Linked DNA regions of Homo sapiens: regions 1, 2, 3, 4 and 5 are each linked to region 6. Evidence: fine-mapped expression QTL. A gene starts in region 6. Each other region holds a variant in brackets. All regions are shown on one strand. Distances are between the middles of the regions. Region 1 has its middle 33 kb from the start of PPFIA1. Region 2 overlaps PPFIA1 (PPFI scaffold protein A1). Region 3 overlaps PPFIA1 (PPFI scaffold protein A1). Region 4 overlaps PPFIA1 (PPFI scaffold protein A1). Region 5 overlaps PPFIA1 (PPFI scaffold protein A1). Region 6 holds the start of PPFIA1 (PPFI scaffold protein A1).

Region 1 (4,088 bases), 34 kb after region 6:
TCAGGAGAGCGAAGAGGGTCCAGACGTGCTGGCTCACATCTGTAATCCCTAGCACTTTGGGAGGCTGAGGCAGGAGGATCACTTGAGGCCAGGAGTTTGAGACTTGCCTGGACAACATAGTGAGATGCCCATCTCTACAAAAAATACAAAAATTAGGTGGGCTTGGTGGCACACACCTGTAGTCCCAGCTACTCGGGAGGCTGAGGTGGGAGGATCACCTGAGCCTGGTAGGTCAAGGCTGCAGTGAGCCAAGACTGTGCCACTGAACACCTCCAACCTGCAAGACAGAGTAAGACCCTGTCTCCAAAAAAAAAAGAGAGAGAGAGTAAAGAGAACTGTACAAGATGTGGGTTATAAAAAGGGGCATCAGAATTCTGACACATTCTACTCCATGGATGAACCTTGAGAATATCATGCTCAGTGAAATAAGCCAGACACAAAGAGACAAATACAACTCCATGTCCACAGAGGGTTGATTCCAGGACCTCCTGTGGATACCAAAATCCTCAGATGCTCAAGTCACTTATATAAAATGGAGTAGTGTTTGCATATAACCTACATATATCCCCCTGTAGACTCTAAATCATCTCTAGGTGACTCATAACACCTAATAAAATGTCTACGCATCACTTCATTTGCATGGATTTAATGCAATGATAAATTCAAGTTTTGCTTTTTGGAACTTTGTAAAAAGTTTTTGTGCATTTTTTTTCTTTTTCTTTTCTTTTTTTTTTTTTTTTTTAGCTAGGGATGTGGTCTGTCACCCAGGCTGGAGTGCAGTGCTACGATCATGGCTCACTACAGTCTTGATCTCTCAGGCTCAAGCAATCCTCCAACCTCAGCCTCCCAAGTAGCTAGGACTATGGATGCACCTGCCTGTAATCCCAGCACTTTGGGAGACTGAGGCAGGTGGATTACTTGAGGTCAGGAGTTCAAGGCCAGCCTGGGCAACACGGTGAAGCCCCATCTCTACTAAAAATCAAAAATTAGCTGGGTGTGGTGGCCAGGTGCCTGTAATTCCAGCTATTCAGGAGGCTGAAGCAGGATAATTGCTTGAACCCAGAAGACAGAGGTTGCAGTGAGCCAAGATCGCACCACTGCACTCCAGCCTGGGAGACAGAGCAAGATTCCGTCTCAATAATAATAATAATAATTTTTTTTTTTTTTTTTGTAGAGATGGGGTCAAGTGACCCTCCCACCTCAGCCTCCGAAAATGCTGGGATTATAGGTGTATACCACCGCGGCTGGCCTGAGAATATTTGTAATCTGTGGGTGCTTGAATCCATGGATTTGGGACACATGGACATGGGAGTCTGACTGTAATGTAAGATTCAGCCTACACCAGGTGTCTAGCGTAGTCAGATTCACAGAGACAGAAAGAAGCTGCTGATTGTCGCGAGTTTCAGGGAGAGGGGAATGGGGAGTTAGTGTTTAATGCAGACAGAGTTTCCGTTTGGGAAGATGGAACAGAATTCTGGAGATGGATGGTGGTGATGGTTGTGCCACAGTGTGAATGTGTGAATGTTCCTTTTTTTTTTTCTTTTCTTTTCTTTTCTTTCTTTTTTTCTTTTTTTTTTTTTGAGAGGGAGTCTCACTCTATCGCCCAGACTGGAGTGCAGTGGCACCATCTTGGCTC[A/C]GTACAACCTCCACCCACTGGGTTCAAGTGATTCTCCTGCCTCAGCCTCCCGAGTAGCTGGGATTACAGACGCACTTCACCATGTCCGGCTAATTTTTGTGTTTTCAGTAGAAACGGGGTTTCACCATGTTAGCCAGGCTGGTCTTGAACTCCTAACCTCAGGTGATCTGCCCACCTCGGCCTCCCAAAGTGCTGGGATTACAGGCGTGAGCCACTGTGCCCAGCTGTGAATGTTCTTAAGGCCCTTGAACTATACACTTGAAAAGGTTAAGATGGTAATTTGTATGTTACATGTGTATGTTACATGTGTTTACCACCATTTTAAAGAAGGGGACCATCAGCTTCAGAACTGCTGATCCTGATTCACATGTCAGAGGCCACAAGAGACCACAGGACAAGTTTGCAGCTCTGGGTGACAGGACTATGGAGAAGCATCCGGTTAAATAAAGGCCCCTTCTGTCCAGATGGCTGAGACGGAGGGAGGAGACAGAGGCCTGGGGTCCAGCCTGCCTTCCCTTCTTCCCTCCAGTCAAGGAAAGTGACTTTTTTATGATTCTTATTTCCTGAGATGTGAAAGTAAACCAGGGGCCTGGGGGTGCAGGAGAAAGATTTCTTAGGTAGTAAGTCTTTTCCCAAATTATTTATTTATTATTTTATTTTATTTTATTTTATTTTATTTTATTTTTTAGAGACAGAGTAGTGCTCTGTCACCCAGCTGGAGTGCAGTGAGTGGCACAATCATAACTTACTGCAGCCTCCAACTTCTGGGCTCAGGTGATCCTCTCGCCTCAGCCTCTGAGTAACTGGGACCACAGGTGCACGCCACCACATTCTGCTCATGAAAAAAAAATTTTTTTTTTTTTTTTTTTTTTTTTTTGGTAGAGACAGGGGCAGGTCTCACTATGTTGCCCAGGCTGGTCTTGAACTCCCGGCCTCCAGTTTTTCTTCTGTCTCAGCTTCCCAGAGTGCTGGGATGGTGGATGTGAGCCACCATGCCTGACCTAGAAATTCTTAATTAAGTGCCACTACTTTGGAAGGGGGATGAAATCAAGTGGTCGGTCTCTGCCAGGATCTGGAATAGGCTGCTAGGGTTCCCAGGCCCCATGCTGATGATGGATCCCTCTCTCCTGGAGGAGGTGGGGGCGCGTGGCCCCACGGGCTCACTCGGCTTGATGGAGAGGCCTCTTCTGAATGCCCAGCTCCCATGTAACATCCTCTGCTGGTCCCAGGTGCCTCCCCCCATTCACCTGGCCTGGGCTCAGTGCCCCATTCACTGCCCTCTGCCTAATGGTTGGCCTAATGGTTGGCCACTCCAAGTGGACCAATGGATTCTTGGCTTGTCCAACTGTCTCCTGTGAGCTGATTCCTATGGGCCATAAACAGGGTGCGACTTGCACCGAGGAGGGATAGGAAGAGAAGGGACAGATGTGGACAGCCAACCTGCAATGACAGCTGTGGTCACCACAGAGATCCCTTATGGGCAGGTAAGATATTCCAGGCACCAGATGTGGTGGCTCAAGCCTGTAGTCCCAGCTATCTGGGAGGCTGAGGAAGGAGGATTGCTTGACCCCAGGAGATCGAGGCTGCAGTGAGCCAGGATTGCGCCACTGCACTCCAGGCTGGGTGACAGAGTAAGACTCCATCTCTTAAAAAAAAAAAAAAGATATTCCAGTTGCTTTACATCCGTAACCCTCCCAGTGGACGTGAGAGCTATCATCTGTGGCAGACTGTATCTCCCAAAAGGTTATTGCAGCAGTGTCTCCTGTCCCATATACTCTTCCACTTTTCCACCTTTCCAATTTTCCACCTTTCCACTGCCCCATCAAAGTCTAGAGTTTACAGCCTGGACAACATAGTGAAACCCTGTCTCTACCAAAAAATACAAAAATTAGCCAGATGTGGGGAGGTGGAGGTTGCAACAAGCCGAGATGGCAGCACTGCAGTCCAGCCTGGACAACAGAGCGAGACCCTGTCTCAAAAACAAAAACAAAAAGTCTGGAGTCTAATTCTCCTGATTTTGAACCTGGGTGAGTTTGTGACTCACAGGCCACCAAGTGGGCAATTTAGCTGTCCTCAGGCTGTCATGTTGGGAGGAAGCCCATACCGGAGCGTCAGGCAGAACCACCCAGTGGGGCCCTTCCTGAATTCCTGACCCACAGAAGCCCTGAGACACAAGAGACTTACTGGGGTTTTAAGCCACTCAGTTTTGGGGTGATTTGTCATGCAGAAACAGATCATTGGAACATCAGTCCATTTCTCAGGTGAGGAAAATGAGGCTCAGAGTGTACCTTTGGAGTACATTTGTCCAAGATCACCTGGCAAATACATAGGAGAGTCTAGACCTAACCCCAGTCTGTGACTTCAAGGTCTGGGCTCCACTTTGCACCTGAACTTATGCACGAATGCATGTCAGTGACTTTGTCTATACCAGTAAGAAAGCCCCTTGAAGTCG
Region 2 (4,088 bases), 32 kb before region 6:
AACACGGTGGTCATGCCTGGTGATGCTGGCAGTGATGGGACAATCAAAACATGAAGTAAATATATGCAGGTGACAGGAGGGGTGCCAGTGTCTCAGGCACCTTGAACTTGAGAAGGGCAGGGCACTTGATTAACATCCCCACTTCTCTAGTAAAATGAGGGGGTGCTGACCTCCCTGGCTAATGAGGATAGGAAAAATCAAAGTGTTTTCCCTACTTCCACACACACCACCACTGCTGACACCAGATGTCGGGGGTGTAAAGCAATTCTGCCGCTGTGTGCCTCTAATTCCATGCAGTTCTGCAGCTGTGTGCCTCTAATTCCATGCAATTCTGCACTGTCCAGCTGGAGAGTGTATCAATCCCACAGGGTAAGGCTCAGTCCCACAAGACCACTCCCCCAGTCCTTTGCAGGTGCCAAGTACAAGTCCCAGGTTGTGACCTGTGCTTCTGACCAACCAGCTATGAATCAGGGTTCCCATGATACCCTTCTCGGGTTCAATTAAATTTGCTGCAGCAGCTCACAGAACTCAGAGGAGCACTTTACTTACATTTACCCATGTATTATAAAGGATATCACAGGCTGAGCATGTTGGCTCACATCTGTAATCCCAGCACTTTGGGAGGCTAAGACGGGAGGGCTGCTTAAGGCCAGGAATTTGAGACCAGCCTGGGCAACATAGTGAGATCCCATCTCTAATTTTTTTTTTTTTAAAGGCTATCACAAAGGACCCAGGTGAACAGCAGAAGGAGAGATGCACAGGGCAAAGTATGTGGGAAGGGGTGCAGAGCTTCCATGCCCTCTGAGGGCACTACCCTCCAGAAACTGCTACATGTTCAGGAACCCAGAGCCCCCAGAATCCTATCCTTTTAGGGTTTTAGGCTTTGTTACATAGGCATGACTGATTAACATCATTGGCCACTGGATAACCCAACCTTCAAACAGAAGCTAGGGCATGGAGCTCAAAGTCCTAACCCTCTAATCCTGCCTAGGTCTTTCCAGTGACCACTCCTTTTTTCTTTTTTTTTTGTCTTTTCTTTTTTTGAGACGAAGTCTCGCTATCTCCCAGGCTGGAGTGCAGTGGCGCGATCTCAGCTCACCGCAACCTCCGCCTCCTGGGTTCAAGTGATTCTCCTGCCTCAGCCTCCGGAGTAGCTGGGATTACAGGCACACACCACCACGCCTGGCTAATTTTTGTATTTTTAGTAGAGACGGGGTTTCACCATGTTGGCCAGGCTGCTCCTGAACTCCTGACCTCAAGTGATCCGCCTGCCTCAGCCTCCCAGAGTGCTGGGATTATAGGCATGAGCCACCGTGCCAGGCCTCCAGTTACCAGTCCTTACCTTGAGGCTACCTAGGGGGTAGCCAGTCACCAGTCACCTGATCAGCACATAAGGACACTCTCAGTACTCCAGAGAGTCCAGGAGCTTGAGAAGCTCTGTGCCAGGGGCCAGGGCACAGACCAAATGTACATCTCTTCTTATGCTACAATATCACACTTGGCACCGCTCAGGAATGGCTTTAGAGTTCACAGGTAAGCAATTCTCCAGAAAAACCTTAGGGTATGCACAAGCTTTCCCTGATTTCATAACAATTGTAGTTAGCATTTTTCAGGCTCATATTAGCAAGGAAAGCCACAAGCAGCTTTTACATGTAATTAAACAATCTGCCAAACTTTTTCCGTGACATTTATTAAATTGGAAATGTCCCAGATGTGTGTGAGTAAGCATTCTGAGACCGCTTTCCAAGACTTGTCAAGGTTCTGCAGACAGGACTCGGTATATTCTGCTAGACCAAGTGCTACCGAAGAGCAGCACTCGAACACGCGGTAGGGCTGCCCGACACTGCGTCAGACCGGGGTCTAGAACCACAGTGCAATGCTGAAAGAATGCAAGGTACGCCAACTGAGAACGCTGGCCAGTGTTTTAACAGACATGGGAGACCACAACTGAAAACTCAAGCCTCAGCATACGCAAGACCAAGGAAAACTGGGCTGCCACTTTCCTTTCAGCCTGTGACATGGTCTTAGAGATGTCAGGTCAAAATTGGGAAGTTTGCTAATTTAATAAACAGGTATCTCAGAGGAATCAAAGGTCTACGTATAAAGCTGTAACTGAAAGACGCCTTATTAGGGATTTCTTCCTGTGGTGTGGTGGCACAAATGTAGTCCCAGCTACTTGGGACACCGAGGCAGGAGGATTGCTTGAGCCCAGGAGTTCAAGATCAGCCTGGGCAACATACTGGGATCACAT[G/C]TCTTTAAAAAAAAAAAAAAAAAAAATGGTGTTGAGAGTATCTACGGCTACATTTACATTTACATTCCTGATATTCTGCTGATGAGTCAAGAAAACACAACACTCTAGTGTTCGAGACCATACAGCTAAGGCTGAATGTATAAATATAAATGGACTTGTTAAAGCTTTTGATTCTGTCTCATGCAGTTTTCTTAACAAGCATGACATTGCCTACCAGAAAACGACATAACTGACTGGCAGAAATGATAAAAAGAAAGGGTTTATTGTCAACCAAGGAAGCGTCTCAAGTGCCCTGTCTCCAGCTCACAGCTCTGTTGCCGCAGTGTGCTCCCTCTGCCCGCCCAGACTCCACTGCCCATCTCCATCCTCCCACGAGGCTCTCAGAGAATGCACTCCAGCCCTGGATAGCCACCTTCCTGTGAGCTCACAGCCCTCCATGCCTTTCCTGTTTCCTGGTCAGCCACCCTTCTCCCACTGCTCCCTGGGGAAGCATCCCCTCTAAGGACCAGTGTGGCTGCCCCACCCTACGAAGCTGCTGGCTGCTCCCTCCTCCAATCGAGCCTCTCTTCCCACTGCTGCCATCCCCACGATCCCCTTGATGCTGAATGGGACCTCACAACCCTCAGTTCAACCATTCCCCCTCCTCTGGGAAGGCTCTTCTGGCCCCTGAGGGCAACCTGGCCAGCTCCTTTCCTGTGCTATGCTGGATTCTGTCTACTGTGCCACTGCACAGCCACCGCTTCACTGCACTTTCGTGAGTCCACTTAGACTCCATGCTTCCCAGCTGAAAGGCTGTGCCCATCACTGTTAAAACCCCAAGCCACAACAAGGAACCGAGCAAAGCAGCCATGTTCACACGGTCACTGCATATGGAATTAACTGAGTAATACTGACAGCTCACATTACTGCACGGTGGTCCCGTGAAACATTCATGTGCTGCGTACTGCGTCTGGCAAAGCAGTCTGACGAGAGCTCTATGAATGGTTTCACCCTCTACTTTAACAAGAAGGCATCTCAAAATGAGCCAAAGATTCAGATACACAACTGTAAACGAAGGTCCTTTATTAAGAATTTCCTCTCTGTGGTTCTATTAAGCTTACTAAATAGACATATAAGCTTAAGAACAAGTACCCCTATTAATTCAAGCACTTTCCTGAACAAAAAAATATTTCTAAGGTGCTATATGCTAGGTACTCAAAAGATGTAAACTGCAATAACTATATTTGTCTAATGCCTTATGATTTTCAAAATACTTTCATATATTTTATCACATTTTACTCTCAGCAACCCAGTAAGGCACTCATAATTACCTTATTTTACAAATTAGAATACAGACCCAGGCAGATTAGAGAGGTACAAAGGTCACTCAGCTAGTAAGTGGCTTGGGACTCGCAGCCCAATGCAGATGTTATCTTCAGGGGAAGATACCATGGTGAGGACCAAAACCAAGTGCGCAGGGAAGCTGAGTTCTCTCCATCTTCCCTGTGTTGGGGGCTGTGTTGAGTGGTTTGCAGAGACATGCCTCACATCAAATGAATGTCTACTTTGTGCAGGCTAGCATGGTAGATACTTTATGTTAGTTCTCATCAAGTCTACTTATTGGGTAATAAGTAGTATCTCTATTTTACAGATTTTATAGATGGCAAAACAGTCTTAGAGGTGAACTATCTTGGCCAAGATCAGAAAATTGGTACGCAGAGGACCCAAAACTTCTAACAGGTATGTAGGCGAGAGGGAACAAGGAGTGACTGGGCAGAAAACAACAGACTGCCATTGCAGCAGTTAGTAAAAATGAAGGGCCTGTTTACACAGTAAACCCATGACCTTAAATGGAGAG
Region 3 (4,088 bases), 83 kb before region 6:
ATGAGAAAACTGAAGCACAGAGATGCTAGGCCACTTCCTCAACGTCACAAAGTGAACCTGGGCAGGCGCCAGGGCCGACTCCAGTGCTCAGGCAGCTGAGTCCAACTCTCACCCACCCTATCTCCTGGTTGGACAGCTTTCCAAGATGATAGGGATACCAGTGTGAGTTTCTTCGAAATTTCACAAACACTAAATCTTCCAGAAAGTACGGCTTAATTAAGGCTGTAGGTAAAGCTTTCAGAATATAATGTATATATACATAGCTAGCTATTATAATTAACAAACACTAGTTAGAGCTTAGGCACAACTGAAAACCATTCAATGAGATGAAGAAATAACACAAAGCTTACTTTTTTTGAAGTTTACGATTTTTTTCAGCCTGTCCCCCCAATTTGCTAAGTCCCAAGGCATCCTGAGATGAGTTATCCGTCTCGGAAACACCAGCTGTGAGGAAGCAGAACAGCCCAGAAGTAAAAATCAGCATGACAAAGCTCTATGTTTTCATAAATAGGCAGATGAATATTTGCAGGTTCAGATTTAAATCATTTCTTAAGGCTAAGTTTCTGACTAGACAACCAAATGCCCAAGACGGAAATGCTCAAGACAGGAAATGTGTTGTACCTGAGTGGCAAGTGAGCATAAACTGCTGCTCTCTAGCTCCCATGCCTTCACAGCTGCTGCTCCCTGGAGAGCACACGGCTCCTGGAGCACCGCGTGGGAACTGATGGCACCGAAGGCAGTGCCTTCCTCCCCGACCCCTGGGTGCTGAGAAGGGTGCGGAAAACCAACCAACCTTGTCCTAATGCTTCTTTGCCAGTTTGTCCAGGTCGGCCCTTTTCTTTCTTGCCAAACAAGCGGCCAATGGAGGACTTAATGCCTTTCTTCTTTGGGGCTTTGTGGAGCGAGTCCTGGCTACTGTTGCTACTGCTGGGGTTGCTCACGGGACCATCCTGGGAGCCTGTGGAGCTTCGAGGAAAGAAAACGGATCTTTACTATGTGCCCTTGTAGGATACTTCACATATTAACAGTCGCAAACTTCCCTACAAGCACTTCCAGTCTCTTTCACACACATCTTCCTCACCAAGTGCATCATGCATGATAAAGGCAGACTCCCGGCGAGGCCAGCGCGGAGACCCATTCTGGGCAGCTGAGACTCTCTCTGACATGGAGCTCCCCTCCCCTTCAGGGGAGGCCCTGACTCCGCGCCATCAGGTGCCAAAGCCCAATGGTCTGCCTGCTTCCCCTCCAGCAGCTCCCACAACCGCCCTGAGCATTACTCTACTCAGCTGAGAACCGTGGCAATGTTAACTGCCTGAGGGGTTACTGCAAAAATTAATATACATGCCTCCCCTGCATATTGCCTGGCACAGAACCGAAATCCAATGGAATTTAAAAAAAGAGGGGCCGGGCGCGGTGGCTCACGCCTGTAATCCCAGCATTTTGGGAGGCCGAGGCGGGCAGATTATGAGCTCAGGAGTTCGAGACCAGCCTGGCCAGCATGGTGAAACCCCATCTTTACTAAAAATACAAAAATTAGCCGGGCATGGTGGTGTGCGCCTGTAGTTCCAGCTACTCGGGAGGTGAAGGTTGTGGTGAGCCAAGATCATGCCACTGTACTCCAGCCTGGGCAACAGAGCAAGACTCT[A/G]TCTCAAAAAGAAAAAAAAAGATAGCATAGATAGCATACTAGTAACAAAACAGCTGATTGGTTTCCTGAGAGGGGACACTCACTAAATTGGTAAGTACAACTTGGAACTCTCCACAGTTTACAAAAGGCACAAGAAAGGCACGGGTTGTCCTAGAGAGCGGTTCCAATACCAAGCCTGTCATCTGCTTGCCAAACTCTCCATCAAGAATAGAAAGTAGTCAATTTATAGACTCTGAAGACATGAAGTTTTTCCAAAACTTGCTGATATCATTTAACTCCTTTCTTTCCAAACTAAGCTTGCCCAAACAGATATGCATCTTCTGCTGGATTTCACTATAGCCCAGAGCAGTGGTAAGCATTCTAAGTGTAACATGTAAATACACTCAACTGAATTAATGGGTAATTCTACAAAATCACTGTTTTACTCAAGGAAAGATTTGTCGATTTCTCAACACCAGAAACGAAAAGACAGGTGCGCTCTGCATGGGGCTGCTGCAGGCTCCTTACTTCCTTATGTCCCTGATGTCCTCGTGGCTGACGGTGTGCAGCGCCCCTTTGTGCAGCCGGTCTAACCGAAGGGCTCTCGGGGAGGAAGGCGGGGAGGTTTCACACTTTATGGTTGTCTTGTCATCTCGTACCTCTTCTCTGGAAGGTGGCAACTGAGGGGTGAGAGAAGTGCAAAGTTAGTTAACAGCAGACTGTGAAAAACTCAGGCCTTAAATTATAGCCATAAACTTCTTTGAAAATCGATTTGCTGTGCTTTCTGCCAGCACAGAAAGTCTTGTTTCAGTCTGGCACCATTCTGAAGGGCCACGCAGCACAGCACCACAGAGTTGTCAGACTCCTGGTCTGCCTCCCCACGAGCGTGCGCTGGGGCCCAACAGGACACAGGTATGCCCCTCATCCTCAGCCTCCTCCATGCAGCCCAAGGTTCTGCCCTCCCCGGAATCCTAGGCACATCATGAGGACAGTCTCTGAAGGGGCAGCAGAGATCTGAACAACACCGATAAACCACATCGTTACAAATGTGAGACAGCATTAACTTGCACTAATGAAGAGCCAGTAACAAATACGTTTATCTCCTGATGTCCTTCAAAAGAAACACTAGAGAGGGCAAGAAACCACTTGGGCAAAATTGTCAAATACCTTTTTTGTCTGAACGGGGTAAAAATAAACAAGGAACAGCCCATGACCCCCATACACATGTGTATGGCTCATATTTCTCAATGTTTGGATGGACACTATAAATTCAAGCACTTTTATGCAGTTTAAACATTTTTGTTCAATATAGCTTAAAAGAAAATACTTCTAGGCTTATCATTACAAGATGATCTTTGTCAGACTCCCAGGGTTTTTTTGTTTTTGCAGTGGAACGTGAATACGCCCATGTGCTGAGGGAGCAGGATGGTGGTTAACAACAGTGAACAGACTCACCCCTGCAGGGTCTAGGCAGATCCTGCTTATACATTTGTGTTTTCTGGTTTTGAGTGGGACTGGATTTCATAAAACATGTTCAGCAAGCATTACTATAAACAGCAAGACTTGAACAGTGAACTTTATTTTATTAAAAATAAATTTTAAGAGCCAGGTTCTTGCTGTGATTCCAGGCTGGACTGCAGTGGCTATTTGCAGGTGTGATCATGGTGCGGTGCAGCCTCAAACTCCTGTGCTCAACTGATTCTTGCCTCGGCCTCCAAAGTAGGTGGGACTACAAGCACGTACCACTGGGCTCAGTTTGAATTTCTGCTTCTTAAATGGGATTGTGTAAAGTGTATCAATCCTACTGTAGCCCCACTGTGGCTCAGGGAGGACCAAGTGCATTCAATGCAAAATGGAGCTGTGCTCATTTAGGACAGAATCTCAACTAACAGTTAAAATGCAAATGAATCCTGCATCCTTTCCTAATTTCCAGTTGCAATCACAAAACAATGAAAGGCTTTCAAAGCTAGAAATTATCAATATGAAGCTTAAGTTTCAAAATTCAGGTTAAAACAATCATCTGTTTTAAAAAAACAAAACCAAAAACAGAGTACAGAGAAAGCTGACACGCAGCCAGCTATAAGCTGGTAACAGGGTCTGGGGAAAGCCCCGTGAGCCTGGCCAGCGCTGCCCTCCTCATCCCTCCACACGCCGCCCTCCGACACCTCCACACGCCGCCCTCCCACCCCTCCACACGCCGCCCTCCGACACCTCCACACGCCGCCCTCCCACCCCTCCACACGCCGCCCTCCGCACCCCTCCACACGCTGTAGTGCTGTCACGTGCCAGACTTCTGCCTCCATCCCAGCTCAGGCCTACTAGAAAGCAGGGAAGTCCTCTTGGTCTACACCAACACCACTGACACAGAGAAGGAAGGCGACAGTCTCTTGTAGACAAGGCCTGGCACTCTGCACGCACCCCTGGTTTAACCTCACAACCACCCGAGGCCTAGGCTCCTCAAAGA
Region 4 (4,088 bases), 59 kb before region 6:
ATGCAGATACAGACTAAGAGAGTCATGATGGAAGAGCTACAGTGATGGGAGTTGCTTCTGGGTCAGGTTTTTGTTTTTGTTTTTGTTTTTGTTTTTGTTTTTGAGACATAGTCTCGCTTTGTCACCCAGGCTGGAGTGCAGTGGCACAATCTTGGCTCACTGCAACCTCCACCTCCTGAGTTCAAGCAATTCTCCTGCCTCAGCCTCCTGAGTAGCTGCAATTACAGGCATGTGCCACCAGGTCTGGCTAATTTTTGTATTTTTAGTAGAGACAGGACTTCGGCATGTTGGCCAGGCTGGTCTTGAACTCCTAACCTCAAGTGATCCACCCGCCTCAGCCTCCCAAAGTGGTGGGATTACAGGTGTGCGCCACTGTGCCCGGCCTGGGTAAGGTTTTCTTGCTGCCAGGAGTACATGCCCACTTTCCTGGTCTTGGTTTCAATGTGCAAAACACCTCTTGTCAAAGTGTTTGCTTTTCCTAAATAACTTTTAAGAAGCTTTTTTTTTGTTTGTTTAAAGACAGAGTCTTGCTCTGTCACCCAGGCTGGAATACAGTGATACTCGTAATTACAAGAATAAGTATGGTTTACGAAACCACAGGAGACCCAATTTCTTACTACAGACTTCACTGCCTTTTTTTTTTTTTTGAGACGGAGTCTAGCTGTGTCACCCAGGCTGGAGTGCAGTGGCACAATCTCGGCTCACTGCAACCTCCGCCTCTTGGGTTCAAGCGATTCTCCTGCCTCAGCCTCCTGAGTAGCAGCTGGGATTACAGATGCGCGCCACCAAGCCCAGCTAATTTTTGTATTTTTAGTAGAGACGCAGTTTCACCATGTTGGTCAGGCTGGTCTCAAATGCCTGACCTCATGATCCACCTGCCTCGGCCTCCCAAAGTGCTGGGATTACAGGTGTGAGCCACCGCGCCTGGCCGCATTTTTTATTTTAGAGACGGGGTCTCGTTCTGTGGCCCAGGCTGGAGTCCAGTGGCACAATCATAGCACAATGAAGCCTTGAACTCCAGGGCTCAAGTCATCCTCCCTCCTTAGCCTCCTGAGTAGCTAGGGCTAAAGGCACATGCCACCATGCCCGGCTAATTTATTAATTTTCTGTAGAGACAGGCTGTTCTCACATTCCTGGGCTCAAGCGATCTTCCCACCTCAGCCTCCCGAAGTGTTAGAATGACAGGCATGAGCCACCGCATCCGACCAAGACTTCATTTGTCATACTATTCATGTATCATAGTGCTCCCACTTAGTTACAAATAGCCAATTGCCTTGAAGTTCTTTGCCACTCTCTGCTCCTTTGGTAAAAATGCTAACAAGCAATAGATTAACTTTCAATTACAACAAAAGAAAAAACTGAGGACAAAATTGGTTAAATCAAATCCTACGTAATCAAAACCTCTAAACTGAAGGAACTCCCACATGTCTTGAACATAATATTCTAAGGTCATAAAAACTTGATATTTGGACTTGATTTCCAACATGAAAGTGAGAGAAAAAGGGTCTTTAACTTCATTAATAATTAACTAAAGCCAGACAAAGGTCGATAAAATCCATTACCTGTCGATGCATAGAATCTTTATTTGCAATTTCATTTTCAAGTTTATCATTGAGGTCATGCACAGATGTGGCTTCACGCTGTGCAGCGAGGTAGCGTTTTTCAAGAGTAGTGATTCTCTCTTCCATATCTTCCTTTTGGGCCATGGCCTAAATTAGGTATTTCAGAGGGGACAAAAAAGTAGGTAATTAACGATTACACATTAAGATACTTAAGAGAGAAAAAAACTGAAGTAAATCCCAAATTTCCAATCAAATTAAAAATTAGCATCCTCAGGCCAGATACAGCAGCTCACTCCTATAATCACAGCACTTTGGGAGGCTAAGGCGGGAGGATGGCTTCAGGCAAGGAGTTCAAGACCTTGTCTCTACAAAAATATTTTATTTTGTTTTTTGAGTCAGAGTCTCCCTCTATCACCTAGGATGGAATGCTGTGGTGCAATCAAGGCTCACCACAGCCTTGACTTCCCAGGCTCAAGGGATCCTTCCACCTCAATCTTCCCAGTAGCTGGGACTACAAGCGCACACTCCTATATCCAACTAATTTTTAATTTTTTGTAGAAATAGAGGTCTTACTATATCGCCCAGGCTGGTCTTGAGTTTCCTGGGCTCAAGAGATCCTCCTTGGCCTTCCTTTGGCCTCCCAAAGTGTTAGGATTACAGGCGTGAGCCAGTGTCCCTGGCCAAAAACATTTTAAAGAAACAAAAATTAGCCACGCATGGTGGCACGCCCCTGTAGTCCCAGGTACTTGGGAGTCTGAGACAGGAGGATTGCTCGAGTCCAGCAGTTCAAGGCTGCAGTGAGCTATGATGGCGCCACTGCACTCCAGCCTGGGTAACAGAGAGAGATCCTGTCTCAAAAA[T/A]AAATAAATAAATAATAATGTCCTCAAAATTAAATTGATGAAGATGTCAATTTTCTCAAATGTGAATGAAAATGTAACTACCTCAAATACCATAAATATTCACCTATACGATTAACAAAGACTTGTCTCTCTTAATACTATGTCTGGCCACTCAGTTGACCAAGCTTTCCTGTTTCTACATAATATTATAAAAATATATACACTCAAATATCTAAATATTTTTCAAGGAGGTGAAAGTGTCCTCAAAGAAGACGCAGTCTACGTCTGCCTCACGCTACAAATGGTCTCACACAGGACAGGGTGCGGCCTCTCTCAGTGGACACAGTAGTGAGATACAAGTCTCACTTTCTAGGATAAGGGTTGGATGAACTCTCATACAATTACAAGACTCAAGCATATTGACAAATGGAAACAGAAGTACCAGTTTAATTTAATTGGATGCAACTACCTGAAGTCTACAAGATGATTACTATACAGTTTCAAACACTTAAGGCTAGGACCAGAACTTTTTGCTTGAGAAATACCTGTCCTCCACCCCCAGAATTCACTATTTTCAAGTTGTTCCCTATTTATAAAATGACTAAAGTTAGCAAAGTCTAAATATTACAAGTGATAGGGGAAAAAAGCTCAACATCACCGATTAGACAAATGCCAATCAAAACCACAATGAGACAGCATCTCACACCAGTCAGAATGGCTATTGTGGAAAAGTCAATCAGTAACAGATGCTGGTGAGGTTGTGGAGAAAAAGGAATGTTTTCCTGCTCTTGGTGGGAGGGTAAATTAGTTCAACCATCGTGGAAGACAGTGTGGAGATTCCTCAAAGACCTAAAGATGGAAATACCAACCCAGAAATCCCATTACGGGGTATATACCCAAAGGAATATAAATCGTTGTATTATAAAGACACACGCACACGTATGTTCACTGCAGCACTATTCACAACAGCAAAGACAAGGAATCAACCTAAATGCCCATCAATGATAGACTCCATAAAGAAAATGTGGTACGTATACACCATGGAATACTATGCAGCCATAAAACAGAATGAGATCATGTCCTTTGCAGAGACATGGATGGAGCTGGCGGCCATTATCTTTAGCAAACACAGAAACAGAAAAACAAAATACCTCATGTTCTCACTTATAAGTGGGAGCTAACTGATGAGAACACAGGGACAGACAGAGGGGAACAACACACACTGGGGCCTATCAAAGGGTGGAGGGTGGAGGATAGGAGGAAGAAGAGGATCAGGAAAAATAACTAGGCTTGGTACCTGGGTGATGAAATAATTTGTAAAACAAACCGCCAGGACACAAGTTTACTTATGTAACAGACCTACACGTGTACCCCAAACTTAAAAGTTAAAATAAAAAATTAAAAAATAAAAGTGATAGGTCTTAAAAGAATTTCAAAATTCTCTGCATATTAATCTCTGCCACATAATCTCCTGCTGTAGCCAAAGAATAGAACCTTAGGTGACATACTACATGCAAATGTTCTTCCTGTGGTGAATTCCTACATGAAATTACTCAACGTCAAACTACCAAACTGAAAAGCAGACATTCAACGGTTGAGGCGCCTGACAAGGGACAAAGCGCAGGTTAGAAAGTGACAGGAAGGGCACCTGAGAAAGCACTCAGCCTCACTGTTTCATGATCAAATA
Region 5 (4,088 bases), 48 kb before region 6:
TCCTCACATGATGGAAGGGACCAGGGATCTCTATGGGGTCTCTTCTAAGCACATTATTCCATTCACAAGGAGTCCACCCTCATGACCTAATCCCCTCCCAAGGGCTCTACCTTCTAATACAGTGAAACCAGGGAGTGGGATTTGAGCATATGACTTTGGCAGAGCAGGGAACACAAAAGTATTCAGCCCATAGCACTAGTGTTCTGTGGTTGTTGCCCTCCAAGCCTTCCAAGGCCTCCGTCCAGAACTAGGTTTTCCATGGTGATGCAGGATTCTGTTGCGTGGTTATGTCACCAACAGTGCAGACCCTGGTAGAGAACCATGGAATAGCATGGCTCATCCCAGGCCTTGCATTCTACCTCCCTAGGACCACAACTGCCAGTAGAGCCCCAATCTGTATAGCAGAGAATTGCCTTAGATGGGGAAACCTTATCTAACTCCAGCTCCAAAAACCATCTAAGGCCAGGCATGGTGGCTCTTGCCTGTAATCTCAGCACTTTGGGAGGCCAAGGTTGGAGGACTGCTTGAGCCCAGGAGTTCAAGACCAGCTTGGGCAACATAGTGAGACCCCATCTCTACAAAACATAAAAAATTAGCCGGGCATGGTGGCACACACCATGCGTAGACCCAGTAGCATAGACCCGGCTACTCAGGAAGCTGAGACAGGAGGACTGCTTGAGCCCAGCAGGTTGAGCCGTGATCACACCACTGCACTCCAGGCCGGGTGACGAGAGCGTCTCAAAAAAAAAAAAAAAAAAAAGTAGCTACATCTAGTTCTAACTCCACTGAACACTTTAGTCCCTGTTACCCTTACCCCTGTAAGAACCCACTTTCCTACTGACACTGCCTGCTTGGAGCCTGCGGCTCAGTGGCCAGTGAAATCCAGTCAATTCAGGCTTACCATGCTAGGTTTCTAGTCTGTTTGTGTACTGAAGGGTATTTCTCTTGCTTGGTGGGCTGGCTATGCTTTTTGGTTTGTTTCTCTACTTAAATTGTACCTTTTCACTGTTGTGTTTGGAGGGGAGATGCATCAAAGCACAAGTGAGTGCTTCCACCTCGATCGGACGTTACAGTTCTTTCAAGAAATAGTGCATATCTCGTCTATGCTGGCCGCTGCAGCAACACAGAAACAGGGCCTGTCCACTCCTCAGGATGCTTTAAAGAACAGACAGACGAGCTGGCAGGAACCTCAGAGCAGTACGTGCTCTGGGTGAGAGGTGACCAGGATACTGCGGGAGCTGAGTTGAAGCCATCCATGATGGGAAGTGGGAGTGCTTCTCGGAAGGTTTGCTGAAGGACACAGCACTTGAATTGAGCTGAATTCTGAACATGCTGTATAGCCAGTGAGAGCCTCTTTCACAAAAGCAGAAGGTATCTGATAAGCAAGGGCTTCAGCAGGGCTGGGGCATGGGCAGCGTGTATGGAGGAAGCCGGTGAGGTCATAAGTGGGCAGCCATTCAGAGAACAACAGCACACAGCATGAAACCTGGATTTAATGTTGAAGGCTATAGAAATCACCTTATCTACAGGCTTTGAGGACTCTGAACAGAAAATGGGGCAAAACTGGTAAAGTCTCAGTCAGTCATTAGCATAAGGGATGTGCTCAAAATGGGTGTGTTGGAGCAATGAAAGGTCGCTGGAAGCACTGCTACCCCCGGGCTGGAGGAGATTAAGACTGGGAAATCAGCAGTGAGTTCACTGCAATAATCCCAGGGATTAATGAGGATCTGAACTAAAATCAATATTAGAGAAAAGAAAGAGCCTAAGTAAGGATTCTCATGAGCCGTGCCCTTCACCCGTTTTCAAAGGATTCCCCTGGATGCTGTCTTCAGAACAGCCTGTGAGAAGGTGAGGCCAGAAGTGGGGAGATGGGTAAGAAATGACTGCAATTATGCAGCAGACCAGGGTGGGCTCACCGCAGGTGGTGAGAAGCAGGGACTCTGGACCTGTTCACCACAGAGCCAGCAGGAGCTCCTGACAGGTCAAAGATCGCAGAGAAAGAAAGGCACGAGGATGCCTCCAAGGATTCTGGCGGAAGCAAGTGAAGGATGGAGTCATTGGTTCCTGAGAAGGGAGTGA[C/G]TACGGGAAGAGTATGTTTTGAAGGGAAGGTGTAAAAGTTTGGGTTTGGACGTGCTAAATTTGAAATGGTTATTAGACAGTTGAGCGCAATTCACAGTCTGGAGTTTTTGGGTGTGTTGTAGAGACTGCAAATGGGGATAATCATTTTGTTCCATGCAAGTCAGTGAGGCCCTGGGTGGAGGGTGAGAAGAGATGGGGATCAAGCCCCCAACAGTCTCATTGAGGGGCATCAGCAAAAGAGGCTAGGAGCAATCAGGGATGAGGAGGAAAACCAGGAAACCCTTCAAGATCTTTGAAGATCCTTATTTCCAGGAGGATGATCAACTGTATTCACTGATGCCAGTGGATCAAATGAGCTGACTGATGCTTGTTGGTCGGACTTGCTGGAATGGAGATCGATGGTGACTGTGACATCTGCAGCATGCTGCAGTGGCGGGTCAAAACCCTCACTGGACTGAGTTCAAAGAGAATGGGAAGAGTGGAAGTAAAGCAGGGAGTACAGAAAATTCTTCCAAGGAACTCTGCAGTAAAGGGGAAGAAAAACAGTGCAGTGGCTGGAGAAGATATGAGGTCAAGAAAGACCTTTGCAGGATGAGACAGACATTTGCATAGTGAGGGCAAGAATCCAGTGGGGAGGTGGGAACTGATGAGTCCAGCTGAAAGCAGGTAAGTCAAGTGACTAAGAGGAGAGGCTGACCTTTTCTGGGGCACACAGATCACCCGCAGTAAAGGGAAAGAGGGCAGACGACATGGGGTGCGGGGTGCAGATCCAGAGGTGTGGTGGGAGTTGGTGGAACTTCTTTTCTGATTTCTTCCAATTTCACACAGAAAAAAACAAACACAATGTCATCATTCTGCATTTACATTTGGGGAAGATAGGAGAGGAGAAGGTATGAAATGGCATCTAGAAGAGAGGACGGGTAGGCAGCATGCCGCGTAGAAGAAAGAGGGCGGGATGCACTAACAGAGATGCTGGCGGCACTTAGGGCCTCTGCGGGTCAGTGGAGGTGAATGGGCATGGAGAACGGACTGAATGGGGTGGTTTCTGCCAGGTAAGCGCAATGAAGTGGAAGAGGCAAGGGAGCTGAAAGGCTGGCAGGGCTGGGAGGGTAATAATGGACCAGTAGGGGAGATGAAGAATCCTGACAAGGTGGCAGGGTCCTAGGACTGTCGGTCCCAGGAAGGTGGAATATCGGTGTTTTATTTTTAAAAGTCTATTATGAACAAATTTCGTCACCTTTAAATGAAAGCCCTAGTCAAAGCCTAAGTCCTCATAACAAGGAGGACCTGGAAGTGGAGGAAGAGCACTTCACAACTCGGATGATGCAAGAACCATGCAGCCTGAGTTACTACTGCACAGACCATCCATCCAGAAACAGGAAGGCTCCCACCTGGCCCCACCTTCACTCATGCACAAACCCCCCAGCACGCTGTCACTCTTCCGGCACCAGCAGCAAGCCTTTTTCTGTTTCATACAGTTTCCCTAAGGTTTTCCTAAGAACCCCAAACTATCCTCATTTCAACTTCCAGATTTTAGATTTGCCTCTAAAACCAAAGAGAATACAGGGAATTTCTATTATTTTGGTTAAATGTAAGTATTCCCAATATATTCAACTACCAAAACTATTCTATGGTATACTGCTGTGGCTACAGTAGAAAACGAATTCATAGACGTTCATGATTACTCCACTTAAAGAAAAAAACCTTTCTCTCTGCTCAGAAGAATCCAACAACTGAAAATATATCAAAGCAAATTTAAACTTAGCAGTTTAGGTAAACATTAGACGGGACATTCCAAAGTTTAAGATCCCAAAAGCATGTTCCTGTATGTACTGCTTGCATTATTATTGCAGAAAAAAAAATAGTAGGAACCCCAAATATGTGCAATAAATGATCTACCTTATTACATCAGAGGAATCTAATTGTCAGTGTACATTTTTTCCTATTTAGGAAAAAAAAATGTTAAGTTTAAAAATACTGTAAGTCAAATATATCACTAGTTTAAAGTG
Region 6 (4,088 bases):
TTCTCATGCCTCAGCCTCTGAGTAGCTGGGACTACAGATGCGCGCTACCACGCTCTGCTAATTTTTGTATTTTTGGTAGAGACAGGGTTTTGCCATGTTGGCCAGGCTGGTCTCAAACTCCTGACCTCAGGTGATCCGCCTGCCTCAGCCTCCCAGAGTGCTGGGATTACAGGCATGAGCCACCACACCCGGCCTAAGCTTTAAAATTCTCATCTGCCAAGGAAAAAGTTCCTAAGGAATCAATCTCGAGTCTTCTATCCCCTAAAACAAATGTGACTTACAAAACCTAGATGTTCTGATAAAGGTGGGCTATCAAAATAATTTTTTTTTTCCGTGAAATCAATCCTATTTGTCTATTAAATTACATTAGGAAATTAGAAATACATGAGATAATCCATGGGAAGTACAAGTTTAGCCAGAAAAGGCTTAAGACAACAGAATGGAGGCACCAAATAGATTGGTTGCTTCAGAGCCCTTTTTCAAAAACTCTGGAGAACTTCCTGAACCTAGGCAGTTCCCAAAGATAGGAATGAAAATAATGAGGTATTTTCACATGACTTTAGAGTACAACGATTTGTTCTCCCTAAGAAGTTTAATCCCTAGGAACTTTGTATTTGACTTACAAACACCAGAAACTATCATTTCACAAATCGTTACGGAAAATACTCATCTGAAACATTAACAAAAGATGACACTAATAAAAAAACATTTAGTGGAGAAAAATCTATAGTTTCAGGTTAAAAGCACTCATACCTGTGGAAGTGCCGTGTTGAGCTGTCTCTGCAAGGAATCTCTTTCATGACCAACCTCGTGTAACTTCCCCTGGGTTAAGGCCAGCGTTTCTTGAGTCTCTCTCAGTGTATCAAGAAGGCGGTCCCTTTCTTCTAGCATGGAGACCATCAACTGTTCAAAATGTGAATCTGCATCTGGCTGTGAAGGGGAGCCGGAACCATGGCCTCCACCTCCTCCAGGGGGGCCTTCTGCTTCGCTGATGGTCGGCATCACCTCGCACATCATCTTGAAATGAAAGACCCAGGCTACAGTAATTAAGCTCAGAATACAGGTTCCCACAAATATGCAACTTTACAGGTATCTGTAGCTAAAAAGATGGGCAGTCTCATTATGCTCAGATCTGTTATGCTTTGTGTGTAAATAAGCTGGGAAAACATACACAGGGCAAATATTAAGTGCAAAAATACACAACATGAAGACATTAACACAGACAAAAATCCAGGGAAGGGGTCAAGATCCCAAAGGACTACCCTCACAAAAAAGGGCAAGCCCTGGGGTAGTCTGTTTGCAAAGCTGTACTTGTTTTTGCTGAAAACAAGTGTGCTTCTGTTACCTATTTTTTTTACTTCCCAGTGGGGTGGGGAGGGTGGGGGGGTAGGGGGGGAGAAAGTCAAAACACATGTCACCCAATCATTTTTCAGGAAAAGCACAGAAGGAGCATACAACCAGCAAAACTGACAAGTACAAAATCCATCAGGCATCTTGCAGGAATGTGTGCAGTCAGCTCCCGGGAAGAACTGACGGCTCCCTGAATTCTTGGGCTGGATTTGGTGAGCACTAAAAGGAACCGGATTCGTTAAACGCTGGTAGAAGTGTTTTCCAATGGCTGCAACGGTTGGTCAACCTAACTTACGTAAGTTTACAACCGAAAAAAAAAATCCACAATGGAAATATAGCAGGTCGATACAGCCGGGGGCGGCTAGGAAAGAGGGAAAAGTGAAAGGTGAGATTACGAGAGTCTATTAAGTGTCTGGGATATAAAGACAGCGCCAGGGAAAGGGGAAGTCGCTTCTGAGCCTTTCGGGCAGTACTGGGGGCGCGGTGGACCCCTGAGAGGGGGATGCCCCAGACGGCGCACCTGATGGGGATGGTGACCTCCAGCCTGCTCGAGCCGCACTCCTCCCCTCCTGTATCAGGTGCGGCGGAAGCCCCGAACCCCGGGGGGTGAGGACCGTTGACAACGGAGCCCGCTCGGGCCAGGGCTTTCAGCGGCCACAGGTCCCCGCCCCTCGCCCCAGCGCCCGGGTCACGGGGCGCGGGGCTCGGGGAGGGGCAGCGCGCAGTCCCCGGAGCCGTCCCTTGGGGCGCGGGTGTCCCGCCGGAGCTCTCCCAGCGCGACCCGGCGCCGCGGCCTCGCCCCCACCCGTCCCGGAGCGCACCCTTCCCCGCGGAGACATCTAATCGGCTGCGTGGCCGCCGCGGAGACCGGGACGCGCCGGTGACGCCTGGGCCCCGAGCCTGCCTCAGTGTCCCGCTCCCTTACCTTGCTCGCCGGCGGGAGCGGGCGAGGAGGCTCCGCGGCGGCTCGCGGGCGGCTGCTCGCTCCGGGAGAGCTTGGGAGCCGACGAAAGCAGCCCGCGGCCGGCGTCCGCCTGCCCGCCCCACGCCGCGGCCCCGGGGCCCGCCGCCCCAGTCACTAAGGCCGGCCCGCGGCCGGACACTGGCGGAGCGGAGGAGGAGCGGGCCCGGCTGCGCGGCGCCGGCGTCTACGTGCCCGACGTCGAGCGCGTCGGCGCGAGCGTCAGCACCGCCCCGGGGGCGGGGCCCGAGGAGCACCTTGGCCCGAGTACGCAAGCGCTGTCTCCTCAGGAGGGGGCGGGAGGCGGCCCCGGGGCACTGATTGGCTGAGCGAGACGGGAGCCACGCCCCCCAGGCCCCGCCCGGGTCGCGGGGGAGGGGGCGGTCTCCGGGATGAGCCACAGGTGGGCGCTCAGGTGCTCGCCGGGTCAGCGTCTTCCTCCGGGCGTCCCCAGTTTCCCCCCACGGCTGCAGGGACGCCGGAGGCCTTTGCTGAGTGTCTACCGCGCCTCGAGTTCTGAGCTGGACGCGTCCGGCACGTCAGGTCCCTCCCGAGCTGGAGGCTCTGGATTCGCACCTTGCAGAAGAGCGAACCGAGGCTTCAGTCACCACCGAGGACCCAGACCCCGCCCGCCGCGGCGCCCCTACGGTCTCCCTGGGCCTGATCTGGGTTCAGAAGGACGGAGTTCCCGCCAGGACCCACTTACGGAGCGCTGCCTGCCGCACCTGGGGACGTCCCGGCGCAGCGTCCAGAGTGCAGGCTTTGCCGCTGTGGCTTTCACTCTGCAGCGTGGGCCCGGGCGACTCGGGAAACCCGCCTGGGCTTCAGCGCCTCCGATGTAGGATGGGAAAATGATGCAGACCTACCTGCGAGGCTGCTTTAAGACATGAATCAGATGTGAAGAGCGACTAGTTGAGAGCCTGACGGGCAGCACTGCGCGAGTCTTGGTCATTTCATCTTTTCCGCAAGTTTTTTTTTTTTTCCAGACGTTGTTTCACTCTTGTCACCCAGGCTGGAGTGCAATGGCGCCATCTCGGCTCACTGCAACCTCTGCCTCCCGGGTTCAAGTGATTCTCCTGCCTCAACCTCCCGTGTAGCTGGGATTACAGGCGCACGCCACCAAGTCCAGATAATTTTGTATTTTTAGTAGAGACGGGATTTCTACATGTTGGTCGAGCTGGTCTCGAACTCCTGACCTCAGGTGGTCTGCCCGCCTCAGCCTCCCAAAGTGTTGGGATTACAGGCGTGAGCCACTGCGCCCGGCCTCAGCAAGAATTTTTAAACATCTACTATGGGCCAAGTCTTGTGCTAGATGTTGCAGATACGGAGATGAATAGAGACACCTCTAATTAATTAAAGCGGATGCCCTCCCCACTCCTCCCAGGATTTGACTCGGAGCACAAACTCTTCACAAACCAAAATGTCAGGACACCATCGCCAGTGTCCACTGGCCACTGCTGTTGGTGTGAGGCAGCCAGGAGCCCCTCAGAACTAGTAAGTCTGAGAAGAGGCTGCACGGGGCCTAGGAGAGGGAGAAATGAGCCCGTCCAAGGTGAATTCCTTGATTCTCCATTGTGAGTGCACCAAGAACAAGCACTCCCTCCGACTGACTCTCGCCTACCAGGATCTGGAACACCTTCCATTAATTTATTCGTTCATTCAATAAATATTTATTGACTGACTACACATAGATATGAATATGTACTTTTTGCCCCTAGTTTCTTGCTATTTTAAAAGTGTAAAAATGGCCAGGTGAGGCCGGGTGCGGTGGCTCAAG

Evidence for each region. PIP is the estimated chance that this variant, and not a neighbour inherited with it, causes the effect. A credible set is the group of variants that fine-mapping cannot tell apart.
Region 1: its variant is the best candidate, but not a certain one, in a credible set for the expression of PPFIA1 in whole blood (TOPMed, PIP 0.77).
Region 2: its variant is the best candidate, but not a certain one, in a credible set for the expression of PPFIA1 in spleen (GTEx, PIP 0.53).
Region 3: its variant is the best candidate, but not a certain one, in a credible set for the expression of PPFIA1 in whole blood (INTERVAL, PIP 0.57).
Region 4: its variant is the best candidate, but not a certain one, in a credible set for the expression of PPFIA1 in unexposed skin (GTEx, PIP 0.79).
Region 5: its variant is the best candidate, but not a certain one, in a credible set for the expression of PPFIA1 in lymphoblastoid cells (GTEx, PIP 0.60).

The regions. Positions count from the first base shown.
Region 1 is chr11:70,235,367-70,239,454 of GRCh38, reverse strand. No RefSeq gene overlaps it. Among named protein-coding and RNA genes, the nearest start is that of PPFIA1, 33 kb to the left of the region's middle. The variant A/C (reference allele first, on the strand shown) is at 1,637.
Region 2 is chr11:70,300,959-70,305,046 of GRCh38, reverse strand. All of the region lies in intron 2 of PPFIA1 (PPFI scaffold protein A1), which reads right to left. LOC107984346 (a long non-coding RNA gene) reads left to right here. Exons shown (of 3, transcript XR_001748288.2): 2 at 3,882-3,970. Among named protein-coding and RNA genes, the nearest start is that of MIR548K, 19 kb to the right of the region's middle. RefSeq lists an enhancer at 2,279-2,778. The variant G/C (reference allele first, on the strand shown) is at 2,252.
Region 3 is chr11:70,352,517-70,356,604 of GRCh38, reverse strand. PPFIA1 (PPFI scaffold protein A1) reads right to left here. Exons shown (of 28, transcript NM_003626.5): 17 at 2,153-2,304; 18 at 794-966; 19 at 351-444. Among named protein-coding and RNA genes, the nearest start is that of CTTN-DT, 44 kb to the left of the region's middle. The variant A/G (reference allele first, on the strand shown) is at 1,646.
Region 4 is chr11:70,327,794-70,331,881 of GRCh38, reverse strand. It overlaps PPFIA1 (PPFI scaffold protein A1), which reads right to left. Exons shown (of 28, transcript NM_003626.5): 8 at 1,563-1,709. Among named protein-coding and RNA genes, the nearest start is that of MIR548K, 46 kb to the right of the region's middle. RefSeq lists a silencer at 2,374-2,510. The variant T/A (reference allele first, on the strand shown) is at 2,423.
Region 5 is chr11:70,317,109-70,321,196 of GRCh38, reverse strand. The region is part of intron 2 of PPFIA1 (PPFI scaffold protein A1); the gene reads right to left. Among named protein-coding and RNA genes, the nearest start is that of MIR548K, 35 kb to the right of the region's middle. RefSeq lists a silencer at 584-765. The variant C/G (reference allele first, on the strand shown) is at 2,080.
Region 6 is chr11:70,269,102-70,273,189 of GRCh38, reverse strand. It overlaps PPFIA1 (PPFI scaffold protein A1), which reads right to left and starts at 2,500. Exons shown (of 28, transcript NM_003626.5): 1 at 2,276-2,500; 2 at 754-1,017. The coding sequence starts at 1,017. RefSeq lists silencers at 1,896-2,325, 2,366-2,915.